3 linked regions of the Homo sapiens genome follow. The protein of the gene in region 2 interacts with the protein of the main gene of each other region in a pairwise test. Each region holds a gene or a part of one and is shown on either strand. Other genes may lie near its edges. The genes, in order: LARP1B, KIF2A and FAM13C.

Region 1 (7,263 bases), on a different chromosome or scaffold from region 2:
CTTTTTCACCTAGGCTGGAGTGCAGTGGGGTGATCTTGGCTCACTGCAACCTCCGCCTCATGGGTTCAAGCAATTCTCCTGCCTCAGCATTCCCAGTAGCTGGGATTACAGGCACCACCACCACACCCGGCTAATTTTTGTATTTTTAGTAGAGACGGGGTTTCACCATGTTGGCCAGGCTGGTCTCAAACTCCTGACCTCAAGTGATCCGCCCGCCTTGGTCTCCCAAAGCACTGGGATTACAGGCTTGAGCCACCACGCCTGGCTGTTTTCTTTTTCTTTTTCTTTTTTTTTTTTTTTTTGAGACAGGGTCTCGCTTGAACCCGGGAGGCGGAGGTTGCAGTGAGCTGAGACGGCGTCACTGCACTACGGTCTGGGCGATGCAGCGAGACTGTCTCAAAAAAAAAAAAAATTAAATTAAATTAAAAAGTTAAATGGAACTGAATAGATCATGTAAGAATGTCTTCATAGCCCAGCGCAGTGGCTCACGCTGTAATCCCAGCACTTTGGGAGGCCGAGGCGGATGGATCACCTGAGGTCATGAGTTCGAAACCAGCCTGGCCAAAATGGTGAAACCCCCATCTCTACTAAAAATACAAAAATTAGCTGGGCGTGGTGGCGGGCGCCTGTAGTCCCAGGTACTCAGGAGGCTGAGGCAGGAGAATGGCGTGAACCCGGGAGGCGGAGCTTGAAGTGAGCTGAGTTCGGGCCACTGCACTCCAGCCTGGGTGACAGAGCAAGACAGAGGCGGTGGCTCTCACCTGTAATCCCAGCACCTTGGGAGGCTGAGGCTGGCAGGTCACCTGAGGTCAGGAGTTCAAGACCAGGCTGGTAAACATGGTGAAACCCCGTCTCTATTAAAAACACAAAAATTAGGGACAGGCGCGGTGGCTCACGCCTGTAATCCCAGCACTTTGGGAGGCTGAGGAGGGTGGATCACTTGAGGTGAGGAGTTCAAGACCAGCCTGGTCAATATGGTGAAACCCTGTCTCTACTAAAAATACAAAAAATTAGCTGGGCATGGTGGTGCATGCCTGTAGTCCCAGCTACTAGGGAGGCTGAGGCAGGAGAATTGCTTGAACCTGGGAGGTGGAGCTTGCAGTGAGCTAAGATCCTGCCACCGCACTCCAGCCTGGGCAACAGAGTGAGACTACATCTCAAAAAAAGAAAAATTAGTCAGGCATGGTGGCACATGCCAGGAGAATCGCTTGAACCCAGGAGGAAGAGGCTGTAGTGAGCCAAAATCGTACCACTGCACTCCAGCCTAGGCAACAGAGTGAGGCAACAGAAAGAGGCCTCTTTCAACAGGCCAGGCGCGGTGGCTCACGCCTGTAATTCCAGCACTTTGGGAGGCCAAGCGGGGGCAGATCACCTGAGCTCAGGAGGTCGACACCAGCCTGGGCAACAAGGTGAAACTCCGTCTCTACTGAAAATACAAAAACTTAGCTGGGCATGGCAGCGCATGCCTGTAGTCCCAGCTACTCGGGAGGCTGAGGCAGGAGAATCTCTTGAACCTGGGAGGCAGAGGTTGCAGTTAGCCGAAATCATGCCACTGCACTCTAGCCTGGACTCCAGCTCAAAAAAAAAAAAAAAAAAACCAACAAAGAAACAAAAAAAGAAAGATATTTATGGCTGGGTGTGTGGCTCACGCCTGTAATCCCAGCACTTTGGGAGGCCGAGGTGAGTGGATCACTTGAGGTCAGGAGTTTGAGAGCAGCCTGGCCAAGATGGTGAAAACCCCTTCTCTACTAAAAATTCAAAAATTAGCTGGGTGTGGTGGCAGGCACCTGTAATCGCAGCACGACACCACACCCAGCTAAATTTTTGTATTTTTAGTAGAGACGGGGTTTCACTGTGTTGGCCAGGCTAGTCTGGAACTCCTGACCTCGTGATCCGCCAGCCTTGGCCTCCCAAAGTGCTGGGATTACAGGCGTGAGCCACCTCGCCTGGCTGATGGCAGTGTTTTGAACCAAATAATTTGTTCTTCCAGACCAGGTGAACACCCTACCCAAGGGCAGATAATCCACAGATTGGCTAATGAATTGTATAATCTGGCTGGAAAAAATAAGTAGGGTCAAGCAGTCTTTTATCCTTAATTTTGAACTATGAAGCAGAGGAAGAGTCTGGCACGTAGCTGCAGAGGCAGAATGAAGTAACAAGATAGAGGTTAATTACAGCAAATTGGGTCAGTCAGATGAAACTAAAATCAGACGGAACGCTCAAATTTTGGAATTTTAAGTTTATTATTAAAAGGACACTTTACAGAGGTGTGAGGCTAGGCGTGGTGGCTCACGCCTGTAATCCCAGCACTTTGAGAGGCCAAGGTGGGGGGATGACTTGAGGCCAGGAGTTCGAGACCAGCCTGGCCAACATGGTGAAACACCGTCTCTACCAAAAATACAAAAATTAGCCGGGTGTGGTGGTGGGCGCCTGTAATCTCAGCTACTCGGGAGGCTGAGGCATGAGAATCGCTTGAACCCGGGAGGCAGAGGTTGCAGTGAGCCGCGATCGCGCCACTGCACTCTAGCTTGGGCGACAGAGAGAGACTACCTCTTAAAAAAAAAAAAATGCCGGGCGCGGTGGCTCATGCCTGTAATCCCAGCACTTTGGGAAGCCGAGGCGGGTGGATCATTTGAGGTCAGGAGTTCAAGACCAGCCTGGCCAACCTGATGAAACCCCGTCTCTACTAAAAATACAAAAATTAGCCGGGTGGTAGTGGCGCGCCTGTAATCCCAGCTACTCAGGAAGCTAAGGCAGGAGCATCTCTTGAGCCTGGGAGGCAGAGGTTGCAGTTAGCCGAGATCACGCCACTGTACTCCAGCCTGGGCAATAGAGTGAGACTCTGTCTCAAACCACCACCACCACCACCATCACCACCACCAATAAAAAATACAAAGCGCCACTAATAACAGAGCTAGTAAAGATGGATGGGAATATAGGTGGAAGTACAATCCCCTTTTAATTGCAACAAGGTTCGCCAGGTTGCTTAGGGTTGGGCAAACTGGAGATCACTGACACGGAAAACAAGAAAACCCTTATTGTTTATAGCTGTTATGTATGAATAGGTTATTAGCCTTAGGAAAATTATTTGTGCCGAATACGGCTTTTGAGTAAGCAAAAAATATTAACGTCAAGTTGAATGTAATTGAAGCGACTTATTGGGCGTGGGGTGGGGGGTGGGGGTTGAAAGCCCAAACATAAGGCGAGCACAGATAATTTATTTAACAAGGCTATGGGGTTGGTGGGGGGCTCGGAAAAAAATCAGCGGCGGAACCTGCTCTCAGCCACCTTGCACCAGGACACAAACACTGACTCAAAAATGAAACGAGTATCATCTCTAAGTGAATGTGAGTGCCAAGTAGAAAGCTCGTATCCGATTTATTATCAAAACGTCTTTGTACCATTTTAACATCCATTCCAGGAAGAAAAAACCTATTGGGAATATGGTTAATTTGTAATTAAGTGCTATTTACCCAAATTAAAGAAACAGGTAACAAAAAATTTTAAAAGCCGGCGAAATACTATTTAATTTACTCAGGAACGCTTTAGAACTCTTTTAGTTGGTGGGTGGGAATGCGGGCGGGGAAGCGCACTAAGCCGAACGCTGGGGCAAAGGTTTCCTAAACAGTTACCGAGAGGTAACTCCCCCTTCATCTGGGACGTGGCTCAAGATTACAGGTGATCGCGGTGCCCCGAGGCGCCAGGAGGCAACTTTCACCTGGGGGAGGCGCCGGGCGCCAGCGGGCCAAGCGGCCGGGCCGCGGAGCCCACTTCACTTGGGAGCTGCCCCAGGCCGGGGGTCGACACCGCGTCCCCTCCCTTAGCCTAGCTGCGACCCAGCTTTAGGGCCTAAGGGCAAATCGAGCGCTCGGTCCTCCCAGCGCCATGTGCGCGGCCCGCCCAGGCCCTTGGCCGCCGTCGCCGCGGGGGCAGGCCGCGAGCCAGCCGCGAGCCACAGAGGCCTGGTGCGCGCTCCGCCCCTGAGCCTGCAGTCGGGGCGGCCTCAGCCAGTGAGCCGGGAGTCGTCCCCTTCGTCCTCCCTCGCACTCGGAGGGCAGCTGGGGCGGGGCAGACCCTCGGGCCGGGCGGCACCCGGGCGGGCGAATCCGTCAGCTCCCGCGGGAGGCCCGGCGAGAGAAGGACCCGGTGAGTAGCCACGTCACGCTCCTCAGGGAGGCCCCGCCCCGTGCTCTCGGGCCGCCCCTCTTCGCCGTCTCCACGCCTCCGCGGGCAGTTACCAGCTTTGGCTGCTCGCGCCTCCCCAACTCGGGTAAAGCTCCTCGGCCTCGGCGTGCTGCGCCTCCGCGGCTGCCCTGCGCCAGGTGAGGGCTCGCGGCTCCCGGCTGCGGCTCCCGGCGCGTGGTGGCGGGCTCGGGGCGTGCGTCGCGGAGAGGACGGGGCCGGCGGGCGGTTGGCGCTCCGTTCGGTGCGGGGAGGGGCGTCACGCCGGGCGCTGCGCGGCCTCGGCGGGCGGCGGCAGCGGCGGCCACGGCCGCCGGGCTCTCGGGTTGTCTGTCCCCAGTTGGAGCCGGCCGGTGTCCCGGCGGAGAGACGGGCAGTCGGGTTCCCTGGCCTCGGGGCCACCCCGGCTGGGGCGGCTGGGGCAGAGGGACGATGTCTACTCGCGCCCCGATGCCCGCCGCCCATTCTCGGGAGGATCCGCCCGCGGTGACTGCTGAGAGGGAGTCGCTGTTGGCCGCGGCGAACCGGCCGGCCGAGCAGCCGCCCCCGCCCGAATGTGAGGGCAAAGAGGCGGCGAGGGAGGAGAGGGCCGCGGCCGCCACTAGCGCTGGGGCGCGGGGAGAGCCGTCGCCGGCGCTGGTGCTGGGACGCAGCGTGCCCCAGGCGGCTGTCCCCGTGAGGCCCCTGGCGCTGCACCTGGCGCACAAGGCGCGTGGGCCCGGGGGCCCTTTCGGCGGGGAGCCGCCACCGCCACCGCCGCCGCCGTCGCCGTTGCCGCCGTTGCTGCGGGATCCGCCGGCCGAGGACGCCCGGGAAGAGGTGGCAGCTGGCCCTGCGGAAAAGCGGCAGCCGCCGCTGCTGCCGCCTAAGGGAAATCCCTGGACCAAAAAGCCTCCCCAGCACCTGTCCCCAGACACGACAGGTCCGCCACCGCCCCCGCTGGAAACCCTGGAGGCAGGTCTGTGGTTGCTCTGCGTTGGGCACTGGCAGGGTGCGGGCAGGGGCGACTTGCGGGACTTGCCGGCGCGTGGCGGCGGTAGCGGGCACCAGGCCCGGGTAACGGCAGGCCTCCCCTCCCTGTCAGTCGGAGGTAATTTGTTCCAAGGTGTCATTCACTCTGCCTATTTACAGACATGGGCATCTGGGAAGGGAGCGGCAGGAAGAGGTGGGACCTCAGGTTCTCCTTGCCTGATGGGGGCACGGAGGTGGTAGCTTGGCGGCGCATCCCTGCTGGCGCGGTTGCGATTGTGTTTTGTCCCCAGTGTTAGTGACTTGGGAAAGTAGCTAACTTTAGATACTGCAGTGCTTCGTATGGGAAAGTTTTGGTAGACTTTTTTTTTTTTTTTTTTACATAAAAGGATTGAAGCAAGTCAGAGCAAGGGGATTTATTCGTAAGTGGAAGCGCGATTGTAGTCTTTTGTGAAATAAGATGAAAAAAGGTTTTCAAAACACTGCTGAGCAGTCATATTAAAAATGAGACTTTAAATGTGGTTTTTAAAGTGCTTTATGGGGGGAGGGGGGAGGGATAGCATTAGGAGATATACCTAATGTTAAATGACGAGTTGATGGGTGCAGCACACCAACATGGCTGCACATGTATACATGTGTAACCTGCACGTTGTGCACATGTACCCTAAAACTTTAAGTATAATTAAAAAAAATAAAGTGCTTTAAGTTATAAGTGTGCTGGAAAATAATTGAAATAGGATAGTTGACATGCGAGCGTGGATTGCACGTTAGGTAAATGGTTTTCTAACATTGTCAGCTCTCCTTCCCTTTAGAGGAGATAAGATTATGCCACTATATTTGAATGCTGACCAATGCTGTATGGCCGTCGGTGCTTTATTTTGATTGTAGTAACTGCAACTTAAGAAAGTAAAAATGGGCCGGCGCGGTGGCTCACGCCTGTAATCCCAGCACTTTGGGAGGCCGAGGCGGGCGGATCACCTGAGGTGAGGAGTTCGAGACCAGGCTGGCCAATATGGCGAAACCCCGTCTCTACTAGAAATACGATCATTAGCCAGGCGTGGTGGCGGGCGCCTGTAATCTCACCTACTTGAGAGGCTGAGGCAGGGAGAATCGCTTGAACCCGGGAGGTGGAGGTTGCAGTGAGCCGAGATCGCGCCACTGCACTCCAGCCTGGTCGGCAGAGTGAGACCCACTCTCAAAAAAAAAAAAAAAAAAAAAAAAAAAAAAGTTAAAATGGAAATAAAAACCATGACAAAAAGCAGTATCTGGCCGGGCGCGGTGGCTCACGCCTGTAATCCCAGCACTTTGGGAGGCCGAGGCAGGTGGATCACCTGAGGTCAGGAGTTCAAGACCATCCTGACTAACATGGAGAAACCTTGTCTGTACTATAAATACAAAATTAACCTGGCGTGGTGGCGCATGCCTGTAATCCCGGCTACTGGGGAGGCTGAGGCAGGAGAATCGCTTGAACCCGGGAGGCAGAGGTTGCAGTGAGCCGAGATCGCGCCACTGCACTCCAGCCTGGGCAACAGGAGCGAAACTCCGTCTCAAAAAAAAACACAAAAAAACAAAACCGTATCTTTCTAAATTAAGTTGTAAATGACTTGAACTTTTTATATGCAAATGACAGCTGTTTACTTGCAAGTCTTCATTTTTATTTAAAATTAAAGGTTAGCAGCAGAACAAGAAATATTTGAGCGTGTTTACTGGCTTGTGAGGATCAAATGCGATGAAGAGGTGGTATAAATGTAAGGCGATTGGCTGTGCGCGGTGGCACACGCCTGTAATCCCAGCACTTTGGGAGGCCGAGGCGGGTGGATCACCTGAGGTCAGGAGTTCGAGATCAGCCTGGCCAACATGGCGAAACCCCGTCTCTACTAAAAATACAAAAATTAGCCGGATATGGTGGTGCGTGCCTGTAATACCAGCTACTCAGGAGGTTGAGGCAGGAGAATCGCTTGAACCCGGGAGACGGAGGTTGCAGTGAGCCAAGACTGAGCCACTGTATTCCAGCCTGGGTGACAGAGCAAGACTCAGTCTCAAAAAAAAAAAAAAAAAAAGTACGGTGATTGTTACAAGCACCCATTATGTTATGTTAACATTTCTTCAGAG
Region 2 (7,124 bases):
AGCTCAGTACTAAGAAGGCAAAGTACTTAGTTATAGCTTAAGCAAATTCCCATTGCAGGTAAACATGTAATGGAAGTGATTTATACCTTAAACTCAATTACTTTTAGGATATTAGTGGCAAAAACTATATGCAGCCTGAGTTGGATGCTCTCTTTGATATTACCTTGATAGGCTCTACAGTCCTCTACACTGTATTCTTGAACAGCGTTAGCCTGATTAAATAAAACTGAAGAGATTTAAAAGCTATACTCAGACTTTGCAAATGTTAAGTCCTTTCCTTTCAACTCATCTGCCCTTTATTCAGCACAAGGGATATATTGCAATATAACATCAATTCTTCTTGCTGTGTGTTCTGCATATCATCTGTTCCTTAATCATTGCTCACCCTCCTAGACTGATGCAATCTTATCCATGCTACCTCTCATTTTCAGTACTATGCTCCCTCTAATCTATCACTAATCACTAACTCCTATTACTGCTCTTAGGAGATTAAGTCCTATAGTAGTTTCCAAGTGTCCTAGAAATTAATTCCAAGATCCTTACCTTACCTCTGTTTCCAGGTCTTTAATAAGGTGCCCCAGATTACCCCTCCTCCCTTATCTTCTTCATCATCCTCCCTCTGCCTGTTTTAAATGCCCTTCACCTGACAGCTTTGTTTCCAGTCAGGGACTTCTTCCATGCTGCCTACATGGCTAGAATGCCTCCTTGCCCTCAGGGCAACCGACTGGTCATCTTCCTCTCACCATTTAAACTTCACTCTCCAAGAAGTCTTGTCAGATACTCTGTTAGGAGATACTACTTTTACTAAAATAATGGATCACAACCCTGGCTATACCCTGGAATCACTAATGTGTGACAAGTTAAGCTTCATCAGTATGTTAGGTGCCTTAAAGTAAAATACTGATACCTAGACTACATACCAGACAGAATCTCTAGGCAAAGGAACCAGATATTGGCTGTGGTGGGTTGCTTTTTTTTTTTTTTTTTTTTTTGGTCTGTTTTTTTCCACAGCCCCACAGGTGATCTATTGAGCAGCCAGAGTTATAAACCACCACAGGCTGAGCATTCTTTAATCCAAAATGCTCCAAAATCTGAAACTTTTTGAGCACCAACATGACACCATAGTGGAAAATTCCACACACGACCCTGTGATGGGTTGCGGTCAAAATGCGGGCATAAGGCCGGGTGTAGTGGCTCACACCTATAATCCCAACACTTTGGGAGGCTGAGGCAGGTGGATCACTTGAGGTCAGGAGTTTAAGACCAGCCTGGCCAACATGGTGAAACCCTGTCTCTACTAAAAATACAAAAATTAGCTGGGGATGGTGGCACGTGCCTATAATCTCAGCTACTGGGGAGGCTGAGGCAGGAGAATCACTTGAACCCAGGAGGCGGAGGTTGCAGCGAGCCAAGATCGTGCCACTGCACTACAGCCTGGGTGACAGAGTGAGACTCCATCTTAAAAAAAAAAAAAAAAAAAAAACAGTTCATTCTCAGCACAGTATAGACACTCAGCAAATTTTACCACAAGTTTGTTCCCTGCTGATCTTGTCCTTCCTTTAGGTAAAATGTGGTCAAAATTAATGCCAAAACCTACAAAAACCTGGAGAAAAAGTCTTCAAAAGTAAATAAAACATAGCCCAGGGAGGAACCTGATTCTTACAGTTCCCGGGCCATAATGTGTAAGGAGTTTATATCCAAATTACACATAACCACCAGTAGCTGCATCCACTGCTGTTTCCCATGCTCTGCTTCCTTGGTCTCTGTTTGTTTGTTTTGAGACAGTGACTTGTTCTGTCACCCAGGCTGGAGTGCAGTGGCATGATCATAGCTCACTGCAGCCTCCAACTCCTGGGCTCAACCAGTCCTCCCACTTCATCCTCCTGAGTAGCTGGGGCTACAGTCACATGCTACCAGGCCTGGCTAATTTTATTTTTTGTAGAAATAGAGCCTCATCATGTTGCCCAGGCTGGTATCCAACTCCTGGCTTCAAGCAATCCTCCTGCCTAGGCCTCCCAAAGTGCTGGGATTACAGGCATGAGACACCACACCGAGCCAGTCTCTATTTACAAGTACCCAAACCCAGGATATCTAGAGAGAAACCTGCTGTCAGGTGCTGGTCTGCCAAAAACTTTAAATTGAATAAATTTGACCAGGTATGGTGGCTCACACCTGTAATCCCAGTACTTTGGGAGGCCAAAGAGGGAGAATTGCTTGAGGCCAGGAGTTCAAGACCAGCCTAGTCAACATAGCAAGACCCCATCTCTACAAACAATACAAAAATTAGCTAGGCATGGTTGTGCATACCTGTAGTCCTAGCTACTTGGGAAGTTAAGGTGAGAGGATTGCTTGAGTCCAGGACTTGGAGGCTGCAGTGAGCTATGATCATGCCACTGCACTCCAGCCTGGGTGACAGAGCAAAACCCTAAAAAAAAATTCCTTTTGATACCAAAACAATTTAAAAGTTATAAACTTATAACTCAAATAGGTACTAGAGTATAGGAAATAGGCTAATAATGACAATGCCAATTTCAATTGGCAGACTAGGGCTATTAGGGCTGATAATGCTGTATTAAGAACTCTGAGGCTGGCCGGGCGCAGTGGCTCAAGCCTGTAATCCCAGCATTTTGGGAGGCTGAGGTGGGTGGACCACGAGCTCAGGAGTTCAAGACCAGCCTGGCCAACATGGTGAAACCCCATCTCTACTAAAAATACAAAAAAATTAGCCGGGCATGTTGGCGCATGCCTATAATCCCAGCTACTTAGGAGGCTGAGGCAGGAGAATCGCTTGAACCCAAGAGGCAGAGGTTGCAGTGAGCCGAGATCACGCCACTGCACTCCAGCCTGAGCAACAAGAGCGAGACTCCCTCTCAAAAAAAACTCTGAGGCTAAATTCATCAGGAATGCTATGAGGGATCACGGATATTGGTCATAGAGGAGGAGAGATGGCATATATGACATGTATTTTCCATCCAAAAGGTCCATAACTTCAAGAGTCTAACAAAAAAGCCTAATCTTCAAAAGGAAGGTAGTAATAATGTACACACAAAATGGCATATTTCTATCAGTACTAATCACACTATAGATGAATCACTTATTTACTTGTTTGTGAGGGCAGGAACTATTTTTGCTTTATTCATTTTTTGTATCTCCAACACCTATCAGAATGCCTGATATATAGCAGGCTGTTAATAGAAGTATATTCAATGAAATCTGCAATAAAAAAAAAAGAAACATAAGACCACATTATTTTGATATGTCATAATCACTTAAGGTCTATACTCCAAAATATCACACACCCTAGTGAATGACCATCTGAACTTCGTGTTTTATTGTAGTGGGTAATGATATCATAGTGCACTATAACCTCAAACTCATAGGCTCAAGCAATTCTCCTGCTTTGGCCTCCAAAGTGCTGGAATTACAGGCATGAACTACCATGCTCAGCCTAGAAGCATGACTTTTAAAAGGAACACTTCCCTCACTCATATTACTCTTGGGAGATAGTTTAATATGGTGAAATTCTAATGTCTCTTTTCACTTAGCACTATAAAACCACTAATATTGCTTTATCTAAAAGAGCTGGAAGACAACTTAACCTGTATTTGTTCTACAACTGAACCAGAAGAATAAAAATTAGTTTTATCCAAGGTTTAAAACTTGTATCTATTCTTAAGAATCGTAATCTCAAAACAAACAAACAAATAAACAAACACCTTAAAATTATTTTAGGTTACAAAACAGATGTGTTAAAATTAAAGCAGATGGCTGAATCCAAGAATTAAACTTTGCAAAAGATTAATGTCATATTAATCACAACTATACTTCTGACTAGAAAGAACGGGGTCTAGATGATCTCTCAGGGAATCTTGTTCTGGATTTTCCACACTCTTGCCCCTTGTCTTATTTGAGCAGACACAGATTTAACTGGCTCTTTGCTGTTTTCTCTAGCATTTTAACAATCATGACACATAAAACAAGTTGACACATAGCCTTTCCCCAGAGTTTCAAAATCTTTGTCATAAGAATCAAGTGGCTAGGCAATGAATACAGATTCCTGGCTTTCTGTGGTACTTTTGGAAGCAATAAGTGCCTATTTTAAGTTTTTTGAGCTTCTTTGGTAGTAGTGGAAAGAATTTTACTACAGGGGTTTGTATGTCTCAGAAAGAAATACTAAAGTATACAACTTCACACCATAATCAGCAAACATCTGTCAGCAGCACTTAGAGAGCTGGGAGTGAAGGGATTCGGGCTTTGGCCCAGGCTATGCTCCTTATTAACCATGTGATCTTGGCAAATAATCCAACCTCAGATTCTTCACCTATAAACCAATAATCTGCCACCTTTCTATCCTGCTTACCTCATAGAGTTCCTGTGAAGATCCAATTAGCTAACATGTCTTGAAGCACTTGGAAAACTATTAAGCCCTAACAAATCCATATACAGAAACATTATCGTCCTAGTCCTCAGGGAAAAGGGAACTATTAGGTCACAAATGCCCCTATTCCATCCCACCCCCATAATCAATCACATAATTGTACCTAAAGAACAACTGTATTGCCACATGGTTCATCTTTATTACTTAAATTTACACATGCTATTCTCCAGAAGCCTATATAGTGACGTGTAAAGATGAACTAGCAGAAGAAAAATGTGGCAAAGCATATAAAGAATTAGGCCATTTAAAATCTTTTCTAAAGATTTTCTTTGCCTGCCCTGAACTCCAAAATTCCTGATGGGTCCTTTGAAATCTTCAATTGCCTCTTGATTTCAGATGTTAAAAGGAACTCTTTACACCAATACTTAACTAAGAAACAAGAATACTTTCCTCCCACAATTTTAGGTTTGGTGAACTTGTAGTAACATAGCACTTCTTACCAGGGATCATTCTAATCAAGCTCTGTAACACTGCTCGCTGGTGCCTTTCTCCGAAGTAAGAAGCAATTTCCTACATCTTGACTGGGCTGTAAAAAGCGGTATACGGTTCCAAAATAACAGAGAATTCCTCCTTTACTGTCATAGTTCTTGATAGTCTGATTTCTATGCTAAGCATGTCAGGTTCCTGGCTGCCATTGACAAGTTGTATGAATCTAGATAAGTCACTTATGGTGATCTGGGACTCAAGTTTCCACATTTATAAAAATGAAAACTAGTTTATCTCCAAAAACCTTTCTGGTGGAAATATTCTAAGATTCTCTTCAGATTACATGTATCAATACAGTCACAGTACTGTGACTAAGAGACCCGCCCCCAAAGAACAATCCCATATTAGCTGCAGCTTCCAAATGTTCAACATTTCCCATTTCTTCCCCAGTCCCCAAAGGGTAGTCACAGCTACTACAGAACTGTTAACAGCACAGCTAAAAGAAAAAAAAAACCAAACTAGCTACACGACAGAAAGATTGTAGGTTTTTTTAAGAGTCAGTGGGTTTTAAAAAGGGAAAGGAATTGAATCAGAAAAATAGGAAGACACATGTAAGAAAACACACCAGTCCAATTTCATACCAGGTTATCTCCTGTGGCAGAGAATAATCTTAGCAGTCCAAGCCTAACCCCTGTCACTGATAACCTTAGAAAACCAGAAAAGTCAGATTAACCTTAGCAGATCACTCAATTTCAATTAACGCTGTAGTTCCTGACTAACAGGCCAGCGGGAAGTAGAGGGCCAGAGTAGGGAGGTAGCAGTACAGAGGAGCACAGATGGAAGGTTTCACTTCCAGCTAAGATGTCATTCTAATGATTAATTAAAATGTTTGAAAACAAAAAATCCAATAATGTATGATTTATTCAAAAACGATGTGCAAGGAATTTTGCTAGACATCCCAGTAGTGGGGGTGGGAATGGGGGTAATGACACAGATGCATTCAGGGAATTTAAGAGTCATTAGAGGCTGGGCACAGTGGTTCACACCTGTAATCCCAGTACTTTGGGAGGCTGAGGTGGGTGGATCACTTGAGGCCAGGAGTTCGAGACCAGCCTGGCCAACGTGGCAAAAACCTGTCACTACTAAAAATACAAAAATTAGCCGGGCATGGTGGCACACACCTGTAGTCCCAGCTACTTGGGAGGCTGAGGCATAAGAATCGCTTGAACCTGGGAGGCAGAGGTTGTAGTGAGCGGAGATCGCACCACTGACAGAGCGAGACTCTGTCTCAAAAAAAAAAAAAAAAAGAATTATTAGTTATTAGTAAGTCCCATTACCCCATGCAGTTTAAAAACATAGTATTAAGAATATGTACCCATAGGTATGAGCTGAGAGGAGTGGAAAAAAAAAAGTTACAGACCCAAACATTAATACTTAAGGAAATATGCTGTCTCATGAATAATACAGAATGATTTAGGAATTCAGATGCTGACTGGCCATCTGGTTTTAGTAATCAGTGAAGACTCATTAGGATAGTTTTCATCATGGTCTTGAAAGATAGGAATAAGCTCATTTTAGTGTACCTGTTTGCCCTTGGGATATGTTTATTAGTGTAAGAGTATCACTGATGGGAAAAGTGTGGTCTGAAATAGGGACATGGATCGCCATCAGCAAGCCAAAAGAAAAACATCAAGTCACCAGTTAATAATGGTCTGAAGCAGCCCTTCTTTACTCATGTCATTTCTACTGTCTCAGATATTAGTGTTCCTCCAACTGCAAAGTTTATTTTTGTTATAATAACCACTAGTGTTTTATCCAATATAGACGTTATGGAAGTGAGAGGAAGCAAACAAGCTTCTTTAAAGTGAAAAAGGGAAAGCTTGAGGGGCATTCTCCCAGACATCAATTTCTATTGTGAAACACTACTGTCCAATGCAAATGATCCTTCTGTTCTTTCGAAGTTCTCTACTAATCTCCTGCCTTCCACCAACTCCATCATGCATCTGAGGCACATAAAAAGATACATGACCATAGGTTAGGATAATAACACACTGTGATGACTTCCCTAATTTCTTATAGGCAAACCGCTTTTGAAATGTGGCTTTAGGTTAGTAGCACTTATGTAAGAACACAAAGCTCTTGTATGTCTGGGAACTTCTGGTATAGGCTGAAGGTGAAGGCTGAAAAGAACGAAAATTGCTTCAAGTTCAATAAATTTAAATAAAATATGCTCCGTAGAAATTAAAATGTATAAATCAAA
Region 3 (7,963 bases), on a different chromosome or scaffold from region 2:
CCCTGTAGTACCATGTTCCCTGAAGGCAAAGTTGCAGAGGTACAGCCTCCTGTGGGCTTTCTCAAAATGTGGCCCCTTGCATTAGCACTACCTGAAGTACCTGGTCAAAACAGAAGTCTCCAGCCCCACTACATCAACTCTCTGAGGGCAGAGCCCAGGAATGTGGATTTTTAAAACAGACTGCCTACCTATAGAACTACTATGTTTCTAAACATTTAACACTGACCTAAAGGTTTCCAAACCCCAAAACAGCACTGTCCTGACACCAATACAATCACCCATTCTGGGTTCCCACTTTGAGATAAAACCTGGGAGACTGCAATTTTCACAAGCTCCAGTCCCCTTCCCCAGTTGATATTGATGATCAGTTAGCTTTGAGAACCACTGGTTTGAATGATAACTAATCAGAATTATTGCAGGCTTCATTTAAAATAGCAAGTTAGCTGGGGCAATGTCACGATTGACCATGGAAAAATATTAGATGAAAAGGTGCCACAGATAGGGAAGAAAAGGCCAAGGCCATTGTGATGAAAACATTGGGGTGGAAAAAGAAATTGAATTTGTCTAGAGCTGCATAGATAGTGCCAGGGCTGGGAAAAACCAAGAAGAAAATAAAATCTGTCCTTGAGTCCCTCCCAATTTCCCTTTCCCCTTGACTCTTCTAGGACTCCCAGCTGGCCAAGCATAACCATAACCATAACAGGTTAGAAAATAGGTTAGGTAAAATAATTCATATTAAAGTATTCATGACAATTTGAATCCACTTCCCAAGGGCACAAACTTTTTAATTTCCAATTTAATAAGGGTCACTACCAGAGGCCTTCATCCAAAGAAATCATCTCTAGGTGAAATTTCAGGCATCGAAGAAAATAAGTGGGTGTGAGTAGAAGGATGTAGGAATGGGGTGGGGACAGGAGGCAGAGGAGCTCTTCTTGTATCCAGAACATAGAGGGGAGAAAAGTCCCTCCTCCGTGTAGGCCAAGACCACACCCAAACATTTCCTGAGAACCTGCTATGTCTGTGTCTCAGGATATAGCACCTTGGTCCTGAGGGCTATGGGGTCATGCCCAGAGAAGCACGGGATATGGGTCATATTACTGAGGTGAGGGGAAAATGTTATTGTGGCAATGACTAGTTTTAAACAGTCCTAGTCAATGATGTGTTATACCTATGAAGCTTTTGGTATGTTCTCAATAGGCTCCTTAGATTTTTATATTAGCCAAATGGCATACCAATTATCTCTCAGTGCCTTTTAAAATAAATCACTGTCACTCCTCTGAAAGTAAAAACATGATCTTATGCAATCAGAACTCCTTGGGGAGTGTCCAAAGACAAGGCACCAGGCTCTCCCCAGCATTTAACCACGAAACCTCTACAGAAAAAAAAAAAAAAAAAAAAAAAAAAGTCCACGTGAAATCTGGAGCTAAGTGTCTCCATTTTGAACCTGCCGTGCCTGTGACTGACCGAGGATTTGGCCACACCAGGCTCCTGAGAATCGGGGCCAGAAAGCACTTAGTACTTTAAGCACAGCAAAGGGAGGAGAGCAGTACCTGTGCACCTGGAGCAGGAAGTCCAGGCCTCATCTTCGGCCTGCAGATGCACACTTTGGCACACCTCTCTCCCCTTCTCTCAGGCCTTTAGAAAAGCAACATTGCAGCACAGGTTACCAAGCAATCTTATAAACAGAATGTGGGTCCAAATGAGTATTTTACATTGCTTCTTCTAAAGTCAATCCTGTTTTTTTTTTTAAGTGACTCCACTTAAGTCTGCTCAAAACTGGACACTAAAGGAGCAGCACAGCAAAAGAGAGAAACAAAAGAATGTGGAAAACAAGAGGGCCTAGGAAGCACTGTAAACCTTATCCCTCCCTCACCAAGTCATTGTGATAGTGGCAGGACTTGGAAGCCAAAAGCAAAACATTTATTTGCTTTTTAGGGAATTTTAGCAAACAGCTCCCCAGTTAGTTAAGCCTTCTACATCAAACTCATAACATTTTTTAAATGTAGTTGAGGATACAACTTTACACATGCCTTTTTCCTGAAAAGATGTTTAGAGTGGCTTCTACAAAGGTCCCAGAAGTAAACATCATGAATTAGCCTAGAGAAAGAATGCTAGATGAAGTACATATTCATATATATATATGTATATATAAATTACATACAGTATTAGCAAAATACACTACCTGTTAATTTTTAACAAATATAGTATAATATTAGGAAAACATTAAGGAAGGGATGTCAAAAATTAAAACTATAGCATATAAATATCTTTAAAAAAATACTGTGCTTGCTGGTACGCTCCTTCATTCACACTCCTTCATTCCATGTTTGAAGGGTGTTAGTTGCCCTAATCAACAGCTTTAACCATAGGACTAGGTGACTCATTCGTCCCATAGTCACATCTCTGTAGTCAGAAGACAAACATGACAAAGGGCATGCACAAAAAGTTTACTCTGATATGCCTTAAAAATCTGTAGACAAGAGAGGGCCAAGATAAGTTTAGCCTGTTTACCACATGCTGGAATTCAGCTCATTTCACATCTATCTTCTATTGCTGTAAATGTATATAGTGTGCACTCCATGAAAACTGACACCAATGTTGGCAAAATACAACAAAGCTTCCTAACACATCAAATGGATTTTTAAAAATCTGAGCTCCAAGAACACATATCTTGGAGCACTGAGCTCCTGCAAGCAATCAGCTGGTTTTAATTTCTCTCCCGCAGCTGCTAAAATGCTGGTTTCAACCTGTAAAGATTTCTGGGCCCCACCAGTCAGCACGTCTCACGGTCTTCACAGCCCCAGATTCCGGGAGACAATGCATCTAAAACGAACAGCGGCTGGGAACGGTGGAGGATACCTTCACGATAGTTGCTTCCAGAGAAAGGCATGCAAGTCTAATTTTAATGGTAAGAATCACTTACTCTGTTACAGTGGTGCTGCTGAAGGAATTATCCTGAAGGCTGAAACAGAAACAAGAAAACATCAGCCAAGTCTGGCCGGGGAGCCGTCTCCCTGATTGCTCTCCGGGAGTTAGAGCACATACACAAACATGGCATTGCAAGGCAAGTCTCCGGGCTCGCCCGGCACGCTCGCTCTACCTTGGGCTGCTGTCTGCACATGCTCGTAACGACACCCCCAGCAGGGGCCCAGCGGCACGGGCGAACCACAAAGCCCGGCAGCCCGCGAGGCTGCGGGGACAGAGCTGGGCGGGGCGCGGCGGCGGGGCTGGGACCCCGGGATCCAGCGAGGAGCACCTGGAGAGTTACCACACGACCCCGACCTCGCCAGCCCAGGCGCCGCGTTTAATCTTGGGCTCTTTGTGCCAGCCACCCCCCGAGGCTGGCAATGAGAATGCCCCAGTGTTTCTGCCGAAGTGCTGAAATACCCGGGAGACTTGCTTTCTTCCACATGTCTCCTACCAATTTTACAGAGCTCACCCCAACCCCCCACACTCCCACCCCACCCCCAGGGATGGAGGCTCGCAGAGATTCATCCATCGTTCAGAAAAAGTCAGGAGAGAACAAGAAGGGGGAGGGGGATATTGCTGCTGTTTGGTGTTTTATTTTGTGTGTGTGTTTTTTGTTGCCTAGGAAAAAGAATAGGCTCTAAAGCAGGGCTGGCTGCATCACACCTGATCTGTCTAGAGCGCTCTTATTTCAGTCCCAGAGAGGAAGCGCCCAGCCCCGGACTACAGAGCTGTGAATGAACCCACGCAGGGCGAGTGGAGAATTTATTCCAGGGGTTAGCTGGTGATTAGGACACCGTGCAAGGGGTGGGGCTTGCTATGCCTAGAGCAGCCCGCTTGAGCTCAGCTCCCTAGCTAGCACCTTTACAAAGGATGGAGAGACGGAATCCGCAAACGCTATCCCTTTGAATAAAGGCAGCCTTGTTAGGGAAAGGAAAGACTGTCAGTCCCCCCACTGGCTTCTTTCCCTTGGGGATATTTGTTCTGCCCTCTTTGTATTGTTCATTTCTCCTGCCATGTTGACCTGGATATGGGATGTAGCATCTATTAAAGATTCTTATTTGAATTTGAATTATTTTATTTGAATTTTGAAATAAGATTCCCATCCCCCTTTTTAATCTTTCTACTCCCAGAAGCAGCTAGGATAGTGGTTTTTAGTCCAAACCTATGTAAGTTAATGAGTTAACATAACAACAAAAAACTCATAATTTTTCTAATTGGGCAATTAAAAACTTTACCAAAACTTGGAAATAATGGGGAAGAGCATGACCTTTCAATGTCAAACTGAGACATCGGTTAACAAGTCCACCCAGGGGCCAGTTAATTCTCCAGTTGTGTTTGGCTTTGCTCTTCACTATTGATTAGATTCCAGCCACAGTGAAGTTCTGTGGTCACTTGCACATTTTATTCAGCCTGTTCAGAGAAAAAGATAATCGCAGCGTTTATGATTTTATTGCAATATAGGAAGATAACCAATTTTGCATCTAACCAAATAATCATTTTGCATCTAACCAAACTTTCTTTCTAAATACCTGTAAATCCACAGATCCTCAAAATGCTTTTGGAACCAGCTTCATCATCTTACAGTTTTCCCCATTAATAAGTGAATAGATCTCTGCTGCCTGCCTATGTTTGTATGAGAGTTGTATTTTAACTTTTTAAATTTATACCTTGAAAAATAAAAATTGAGTTTTCAAAGAAAAACAGGTTTCATTAAGGTTCTTTGCAATTTTGCTTTCCTCTCTCCAAATATTTTTAAAATCAGCTAAATAAAAACCTAATATGGTCTTAGACTGAATTCTATGGACTAAAATAAGTTCAGGAATATTAATCCTTTGTATGTATAACTATACAGTACATATTTGTTCCGAAGCCACCTACTATTTCATTTGAGCTAGGTTCAGGAGTAAGAGACATCGCTGCTTCACTGTATTCATTATTTAGCCATTTCAAAGTGAGATCTGTTCTTTGTTTATTCAGACTGATGAAGGTAAGTCTATATTCAGCCTTCTGACTGACTTATGGTTTCATAGATTACATGGTTGTTAATTTCCCATATGGTTGTTAATTTCCAGAAACCCCTTGTACTCATTGACTATGGTGTTTATTCCAAGTGTTCCAGTGTGGAGAAAGATCACACTTTTCTCCTATAAATACTCCCAGTGATCCACTTGTAATGGAAATGTTCAATGCTTTTAATTTGAAATAGGACTTGGACATTTAATTAAGAACAACCTTAATTAAATGGTTGATTTTCTTATATACTGCCAAATACTGTTTTTTTTTCATTCTATGAAATGAATTGGGCCCTTTGAAAATAAAATGAAATAACAAATGTACCCAATAAATGCAAGTATTCAATAATGTCCAAGGAAAAGAAATAAAAATTCTCAGCAACTCGTGAATAGGAAGGACCAAAATTAGGTTTTAGGCAGTACCCACATACAATGAAAACAACTGGTTGATACAGTTGATTATGGATAAAAACCAAAACATCCCTGAAAAAACATTATTTGGCAGTATATAACAAAATCAACCATTTTAATTTTTACTTCTCAATTAATTCTTATGACATTTGTTTTCATCTTAAATCAGGTTTAGAAATTGTCTTTGTAAGTGGCTTTTTAATTGGCTTTTATGATGTTTTGTACTGTTCAACTTGGAATAGGACAATACTGATGAATATCGTACAACATATGATTATTTTGGAGACCCTCAGCTTTACTAAAGAACAATTCCAGGAGGGTTTGAAAAGGGGAGCAGAAAAATTAATATTGAGTTTATGAAGAAGTAAGTTCTAGGCCAGTATTTCCCAAGTGGCAGTGAAATTCTAGTCTCCAGAAAATCCAGGAAAATGTTTTAAAAGTTACATGGTCAAAAATAAGTTTTGGAAAAGATGCATATTATAAATTCACAATGCACATTAGGTAGCAAAGAGAAGTTTTTCATCTGTTTTTAACAGTGTTCCTCAAATTCATTGAAGACCAAAATAATTTTTTGTTAAATATATCATCAATTAGCATCATGTATAACTAGGAATTTTGAGAAAATAACTCCTGAATATATCAGGAAAAAAATGCAAAGGGAATTAAGTGGTATATTTATTAAACGAATGAATGAACAAATGATTCTACATGCTTATCACTATCCCATAGTTATGAATAAGACAGACACAGTCCCTGACATCATAACATTTTTAATATAAATATATTGCATATTTATATATGTAAAATACATAATGTATATTATATGTACAATTCTATTGTATACAATATAAGTAAAATAAAGGAAAAATGAAGATGCTAGATTTGAATATGGTTAATTCACTTAACATGTTAAAAGTGCTCAATTTTAAATGCTCATTTTTCTATCAGTGCTCTAAAACCAATATCTGAATATCAGATCTAATACCAATAGTTTAGTTTAATTGTAAAATTGTTAATTCTAATGTATTGACTTGACTATATGCAAAATATAAAGCAACAGTGTAGAGGTCAAGAAAGAAATTTCCAGATTTGCCAAGACTCAAGACCCACCGCTTACTAATAGTTTAAACATGAACAACCTCTTTTGCCTCAATTTTCTCATCTGTAAAATAAAGATAATAATGACCTATTTTATGGGTTCTTATGAAGATTAAATTAAATGACATGCCTGACAAATTTAAAAAATAGTAAATAAATGCTGCTAATTATCCTTATTTTCATTAGTATTATTATAATAAATAAGAATATATAAACAAAGCTTGAGACAAGATGAACAATGCCACTGTGCTTGAAGAGGAGGCTTACAGATGATATTTTCTTTCTACTTCCTATGATGGCGCAGTGTTTACACAGCTTTTTTTTTTTTTAAGAACAATAAAATTTAAAACTTTACTAAATGCGGATGGGCTGCTCCGGATGAAATGGGTTTCATCCAGATTGGCTTTGTGCTCAGTTTACAACTCTTCAATTTAAAATACTTGCGCATCCCTGGAGGAACAGACAATTCTGAGAAATCACTTTCTGCAAGATGCTGGGGCAAGAAGCCAGAATCTTTACAATGCCAGGAAATCAACAGAGGCCTGCTCTATTGGCCTGGACAGAGTGACTTGTAGCTTCCTGTCAGTACCCTTGGGAATGACCAGGCTTCCTTGTGAAAGAGAGGACTCTTGCCTGAAGAGATAATTTTTTTTCCACAAAAAAAGAAAAAAAAAAAAACTTCTTCCCATCCCTGTCCCCTAATCTATTTCTTCACCAGCTCCAATGAGGACAGCATATCAAGAGTCCTTATTATCTGAGTGGTCAGTAACTGAGCTCCTGAAGATTCAAAGGTGCCCAGGGAAGCAAAGCTGTGATACCAAAAACATGTACTAGCGACAGACTGTTTGTGATATTGGTCTTCATCCAAACAACCCTCCCCAATTAATGCTAGTGTACATCAAGTCCATCTTTGGCAATCTCTCTCTGATTTATCTGACAATAAAATGCAGATGCAATGTAAATTGATTGATAAGTGAAATTTCAATTTTTTACAAAAGAGTCAGGATTTCTTGAAGCCAGTGGAAGTGATATTGCAGAACAGCTTGAATCACATTAAAAACCAGTGACAAGTGAGGTATTGGCAGTAACAACCAAAGAATAAAAATTGACAAGAATGCTGAGATGCCAATTCCAAAAGGAATTAATCAATTATCAAAGGATTAAGAGTGGCCCTTGGAAAAATTTATGGAGCCCTTAATTAATTTTGTAATTTCCCTTTTTATAATAATGTAATGAGTATCAAATGTGATGTGAAGATTATCACTTTGAGCTATTAATGTTTTTGAGAAAAATATGTATAACCCCTCCAATAGGTAAAATTTAGTCTCTATGATTTTTAAGAATTGGTTCACTATTTGAATTATACCCAGAATATAAAATAGTAATATTTCTATAATTTCTTTACCATTTACCATGGCCTCTCAGGCCCTATGTGCTCTGGCCCTGGAGACAACTGAACTTATCTCCAAAAC

Evidence for each region.
Region 1: the proteins of KIF2A (region 2) and LARP1B interact in binary tests that used the Homo sapiens proteins (3 or more experiments, as listed by UniProt).
Region 3: the proteins of KIF2A (region 2) and FAM13C interact in binary tests that used the Homo sapiens proteins (3 or more experiments, as listed by UniProt).

The regions. Positions count from the first base shown.
Region 1 is NC_000004.12:128,057,080-128,064,342, forward strand, and holds the start of LARP1B (la-related protein 1B), read left to right. Parts: upstream 1-4,232; 5' UTR 4,233-4,322; exon of another isoform or gene 4,323-4,614; coding exon of another isoform or gene 4,615-5,140; intron 5,141-7,263.
Region 2 is NC_000005.10:62,309,118-62,316,241, reverse strand, and holds part of KIF2A (kinesin-like protein KIF2A), read right to left. Parts: intron 1-7,124. UniProt on the Homo sapiens protein: Plus end-directed microtubule-dependent motor required for normal brain development. May regulate microtubule dynamics during axonal growth. Required for normal progression through mitosis. Required for normal congress of chromosomes at the metaphase plate.
Region 3 is NC_000010.11:59,359,476-59,367,438, forward strand, and holds the start of FAM13C (protein FAM13C), read right to left. Parts: upstream 3,075-7,963; 5' UTR 2,986-3,074; coding exon 2,924-2,985; intron 2,909-2,923; exon of another isoform or gene 2,424-2,908; intron 1,636-2,423; exon of another isoform or gene 1,551-1,635; intron 1-1,550.